2 separate regions of the Homo sapiens genome follow, and region 2 is linked to region 1. Evidence: fine-mapped expression QTL. A gene starts in region 1. The other region holds a variant in brackets. All regions are shown on one strand. Distances are between the middles of the regions.

Region 1 (2,894 bases):
CTCAAGCCTGTAATCCCAGTACTTTGGGAGGCCAAGGTGGGAGGATCGCTTGAGCCCAGTTAGAGACCAGTCTGAGCAACATGAAGAAAGCCCATCTCTAAAAAACCGACCAAACAGGCTGGGCGCGGTGGCTCATGCCTGTAATCCCAGCACTTTGGGAGGCCAAGGCGGGCAGATCACGAGGTCAGGAGATCGAGACCATCCTGGCTAACATGGTGAAACCCCATCTCTACCAAAAATACAAAAAATTAGCCGGGCGTGGTGTGGGCGCCTGTAGTCCCAGCTACTCGGGAGGCTGAGGCAGGAGAATGGCATGAACCTGGGAGGTGGAGCTTGCACTGCATTCCAGCCTGGGCGACAGTGACACTCTGTCTCAAAAAAAAAAAAAAAAAACCCGACCAAACAAAACCAAGCAAACAAGCAAAACACACAAAAAAACAGCCCTCAGGACTGGTGGGGGCGGGGTACAGATATTCAGGGACCTCTTACTGTCCCTGAAACCATTCCTGGGTAGGTCTGACATACATGAGGGCTGCGGGAGTGCAAGGCCTGGAGAAGCCTCAGGGGTGTCCAGGTTGGAAGGGCCAGGGGTGTCTGATTGATGGGAGGAGCGGGGGAGTGGAACTGGCCCTTTGACCCCAACATGGGGTCGACTCTCAGCCCCACCTTTACCGACTGTGTGGAGGGCCAGCATTCTAGCCCCGGCTTTGGAAAGGACTGGGTTGCCCAACACATGGCCCTGTACCCGGACCCTGCCAGCGTCCCCACCCCAAGACTGCCCGAAAACCAGTACCCAATGAGTGGGGAATGCATGACCCGGCTATGAGCCTGGACTTACCAGCCAGACAGTGGCAGAAAGGGCGGCCTGCCTCTACAGCGACGCTGAGGCTGGCTGAAATGGCAGGGCTGAAGGGCAGCGTCTGGACCCAGAAGGTGCCAGGCGGCTTCTGGACTCCCCAAGGCCTTCACAACAGCCCTGGATCCTTTCCACCAACCAGCCTAAGCCAGCAGTAGCAGCTCCAGGACCTGTTTCAGGTGGTCACGGACAGGGGGCCCGCAAGGTCTCCAGAGCCCGAGGGATCTGGGGAGGGGACAAGCAGGCGGGGCTCCCTGGCGCTCACCGTTTTAGGGTCTGCGTGAGAAAGCCTCCCTCACATCCCCCAGGGTCTGCCCTCCCTGCAAGCTGGTGGGCTGCGTGGGCCACCGGCCTGCCCCGTTATCCGAGAGGGCGGAGCGAGCCGTGGGCGCCTCTAGGGGTGCGGGAGCCGCGGGAGCGCAGGGGGTGGGGCCCGGCGGGCCAGGGGAGGGGCGGCGGGGCGGCGGGCGGAGGGAGGGGCCGGCGCCTGCGGCGGCGACAGCGGCAGCTGCGGCGCGACCAGGCCGGGCACCTCCGAGCGCAAGGACAGCGCGAGGTCCGCGCAGCCCAGCGCAGCCATGTGAGTGTCCCGCGCCGTTTCCGGGGCTGCAGGCCGGGCGGGGAGCAGGCGCGGAGGTTCTGGTGCCCCCCCGCCGGCGCCGCCCGGTGGGTCCGGGATCTGCGGCTCTGTCCCGCCTCACCCCATCTCCCGGACCCCGGCCGCGCCTTGTCTTTCCTCCCCTCCCCCCGGGCGTGGAGAACGCAGCTTCTCCCACAAAAGCCGCCGCCTCCGGGCCTGCAGAGCCTGGCGCTGCTGCCTTCCTCCCACGGCAAGGCCCTGGCGGCCGGTGCCCCGGGGCGCTGGGATGGGCCAGGCCAGAGAGCGGGCTCAAGGCGCCAGCCTGGGCCCTGGCACGCGCGCTCCCTGGGAGCCCTTGCTGCCTTCGCCGCAGGGGAGGCTGGGCTGGAAATGGGGAGGGGGCGACGAAGGGTGCGGGCCGGCCTAGGAGCTGAGCTAATCCTCCTAGCTCTAGGGGCCGGCCTAAGCGGCTTTGTGGCCGGCCCCGAGGTGACCGAGCCTGGGCTGGAGCCGGGCTCTCCGCCCAAACCTGGCGTAGCCGAAGCCGGAGAGGATCGTCCTTGTCGGGGAACGGAGCTTTTCCCTGGAAATGGAGGTTGGCGCAAGGTTCCTGCAACAGCCGGGCCTGGGCTCTCTGCAGAACTGGTTTGGGCAAGGGGCTGCTCACCAGGGCTAGAGGTCGGATTCAGTCCAGATTCAGCACCCTTTGTCCTCCTCTCCAGGGTGAGCCCTGAGTCCGGCCTCCCCTACAGACCCTCCCCAGCCAGTTCTAACGTGTGTCCAGGCTGGCCGCCCCAGCACCTACTGTGCGCAGCCTCGTGTAACAATACTTGTGCCCTGGCTGCAGTCTGCGGGGCCGCGCCCTGGGCCTGCCGCATTCGGCCAACGCACAGCATCTGAGGAGGGTTATGACCATCTGGCAGATGCAGAAACAGGCCCAGAGAGGTTAGTAGTATTCTCAAGGTCACACAGCTGGTTTGGGAGAAGCGAGGATTAGATCTGAGTCCTTGCCCCTGCGACACCCACCTCCGTGGTATTGGAGGGAGGAGAGGAATGATAATTGGGGGCTGAGGTACAAAATACTCCAGCGGGACAAGGAGGACTGGCATAGCTCCTTCTTCCACCGCCCTCTCCGGCTTGGGTCCTGTGACTGCGGCGGGAGAGAGGAGCAAGGTGAGCCGCCCCAGGGGTCTGGGTTTGGGTGCGGGTGAGGGGAGGACTCAGGACTCTGGGCTGGGTCCCGCTTGAGAGAAGCGGGCGGGGAGGGCGCGGGTGAGTCACGGCGGCCCCTCTGCGTCGCCGCTCGGACTCAGCCCTGGCCAGGCCCGGCCCGGGGGAGGCCGCCTGGCTCCCAGCGCGCGGCCAGGGAATGTAACCAGCTGACCAGGGAGGGGGCCGGCAGGAAGTGAGGCCACCCGACAGCCTCCGCCCGGTTCCGGGGTGGGGGGTCCGGGGCTG
Region 2 (2,894 bases), 320 kb before region 1:
GCCAGAGCTCATGGGCCTGATCCGCCAGCAGCGCTTGCTCCGCCTCTGTGAGGGGACGCTCTTCCGCAAGATCAGCAGCCGGCGGCGCCAGGGTCTCTGAATGGGCATGGGCAGGGGGCAGAGGGCAGGCAGAGGGCAGGCAGAGGGCGGCTGGCTTGGTGTCAGGACCTCTCAGCACTCTGGCCCTCTTCCCTTTCTCCACGCAGATAAGCTGTGGTTCTGCTGCCTGTCCCCCAACCACAAGCTGCTGCAGTACGGAGACATGGAGGAGGGCGCCAGCCCGCCTACCCTGGAGAGTCTGCCCGAGCAACGTAAGGCGGGCAGGGGCGGGGGCCAGATACCTGCTCTCCCCAGACCGCCCTGGGCCCCGGGGCTGCCAGGGCTGCAGTGCTCAGCCCAGCCTTCTTCCTGCAGTCCCTGTGGCCGACATGAGGGCACTCCTGACAGGCAAGGACTGCCCCCATGTCCGGGAGAAGGGCTCCGGGAAGCAGAACAAGGTGAGTACAGCGGGCCAGGGGCTCCTTCCCACCCGCCCCCGCCTACCCTGTCCCCTGCTCAGTGTCCCCGCTCCCTTGCTTCCCCAGGACCTCTATGAGTTGGCCTTCTCAATCAGCTATGACCGTGGGGAGGAGGAAGCGTACCTCAACTTCATTGCCCCCTCCAAGCGGGAGGTGAGTGTCCGCCAGGCTGAGGTCGGCAGGTGGGCAGGGGAGGCAGATGGGCAGACCCTCACGGCTCTGTGCCACCCCCAGTTCTACCTGTGGACAGATGGGCTCAGTGCCTTGCTGGGCAGTCCCATGGGCAGCGAGCAGACACGGCTGGACCTGGAGCAGCTGCTGACCATGGAGACCAAGCTGCGTCTGCTGGAGCTGGAGAACGTGCCCATCCCCGAGCGGCCACCCCCTGTGCCCCCACCCCCCACCAACTTCAACTTCTGCTATGACTGCAGCATCGCTGAACCTTGACAGTGTGGCTGGCCATGGGCCACAGCTGCGGCCACTGCAGCAGCCATGAAGGGCAGTGGGTAGAGGAGTGCAGGCACCCTGACCAGCAGAGATTGCTGCAGAAATAAAGTCTGCTTGGCTCTTGGGATATGTTGAGCCAGCTCTGTACCTTGCGGGCTGAGCCTGTGACAGTGACAGTCTTCCCCTTCTGCCTTCAAACTTAGCTGGTGGATAAGATGGGGCATCAGGCCAGGCCACAAACTTTGACAGCTACGGTTGAGGGGCTGGTGTTCTGAAGGGGGTGGGGAGAGGCTGGGACTGCAGCCTTTCTCCAAGGTGAGTCCTCAGCCTCCCTCCATGCTGGGCCTGCAGGGAGGGTTGGCCTGTGGTCTGGGGGCACCTGCCAAGGGAGAGGCTGAGCTGCCGGCCTGCTGCAGGAGAACTGGCAGGGTAGGAGGCACT[G/C]CCCCAAATGGATGCCTTCCTGGACAGCGTTAACAGGGGCGTAGTCTGGGAGCCATCTCCAGAAGGCTCCTGACAATCTGACCTCAGTCCTCAAGCTTGCATGGCCCTGCCTGGTGTCCTTTGTAGGACTTGGAGTTCTCTGGTGAGAGGCATGAAGGGAGAGAGGCAGAAGGGCAGGGTCAGGATCCCCAGGCTGGTAGGAGGATGTGGGCTGATTCCAACAAGAGCCACTTCTGTGCAGGAAGACCCGGTTTCTGATTAAAACCTAACTCAGGGCCGGGCTTGGCTCACGCCTGTAATCCCAGCACTGTGGGAGGCTGAGGCAGTCCGATCACCTGAGGTCAGGAGTTCAAGACCAGCCTGGGCAATATGGTGAAACCCCGTCTCTACTAAAAATATAACAATTAGCTGGGTGTGGTCGAGCACACCTGTAATCCCAGCTATTCGGGAGGCTGAGGCAGGAGAATCGCTTGAACCCGGGAGGCGGAGGTTGCACCGAGCTGAGATTGCACCACTGCACTCCAGCCTGAGCGACAGAATGAGACTCCATCTCAAAAAACAAATTAAAAATCTAACTCAGAACCATGGGTAGGGTGGGGGCCATAGACAGGCCAGAGCCCCTGGGGGCAGAAGCATCGAGGAGTATTGGGCCCAGCTGGAGGTTTGGTCACAGGGGCAGAGGCTGTGATCACAGACCCCAAGCCCGTGAGGAAAGAAGAGCCTATAAGTCTGTGGAGCTCACAGGATAGGCTGAAGCCACTGCCCCTCAGACTTCCCCCTGCCATTCACCTCTTCTCTCACCAGTGCTACCTCCAATATCTTTTTTTTCTTTTTCTTTTTCTTCTTTTTTTTTTTTGAGATGGAGTTTCACTCTTATTGCCCAGGCTGGAGTGCAATGGTGTGATCTTGGCTCACTGCAACCTCTGCCTCCCAGGTTCAAGCAATTCTCCTGCCTTAGCCTCCCAAGTAGCTGGGATTACAGGCATGCGCCACCATGCCTGGCTAAATTTTTTGTATTTAGTAGAGACAGGGTTTCACCATGTTAGTCAGGCTGGTCTCTAACTCCTGACCTCAAGTGATCCACCCACCTCGGCCTCCCAAAGTGCTGGGATTACAGGCATGAGCCACCGCACCTGTCTCCAATACTTTTTTGTTTGTTTTGTTTTTTGTTTGTTTTTTTGAGATGAAGTTTTGCTCTTGTTGCTCAGGCTGGAGTGCAATGGCACCATCTTGGCTCACCATACCCTCTGCCTCCCGGGTTCAAGTGATTCTCCTGCCTTAGCCTCCTGAGTAGCTGGGATTACAGGCATGCGCCACCACGCCCGGCTAATTTTGTATTTTTTGTAGAGAAGGGGTTTCTCCATGTTAGTCAGGCTGGTCTCGAACTCCCAACCTCAGGTGATCTGCCCACCTCGGCCTCCCAAAATGCTGCGATTACAGGCGTGAGCCACCGTGCCTGGCCCCAATACTGTTTTTAACTGTTAACCA

Evidence for each region. PIP is the estimated chance that this variant, and not a neighbour inherited with it, causes the effect.
Region 2: its variant is the best candidate, but not a certain one, in a credible set for the expression of RIPOR1 in whole blood (INTERVAL, PIP 0.54).

What each region holds. Positions count from the first base shown.
Region 1 is chr16:67,527,479-67,530,372 of GRCh38, forward strand. RIPOR1 (RHO family interacting cell polarization regulator 1) reads left to right here and starts at 1,351. Exons shown (of 22, transcript NM_024519.4): 1 at 1,351-1,436. LOC100505942 (a long non-coding RNA gene) reads right to left here and starts at 1,267. Exons shown (of 2, transcript NR_104656.1): 1 at 839-1,267. RefSeq lists silencers at 1,308-1,417, 1,448-1,677, 2,678-2,894.
Region 2 is chr16:67,202,913-67,205,806 of GRCh38, forward strand. It overlaps ELMO3 (engulfment and cell motility 3), which reads left to right. Exons shown (of 20, transcript NM_024712.5): 16 at 1-92; 17 at 207-311; 18 at 415-497; 19 at 585-671; 20 at 753-1,092. The coding sequence ends at 965. Among named protein-coding and RNA genes, the nearest start is that of MIR328, 2.0 kb to the left of the region's middle. The variant G/C (reference allele first, on the strand shown) is at 1,407.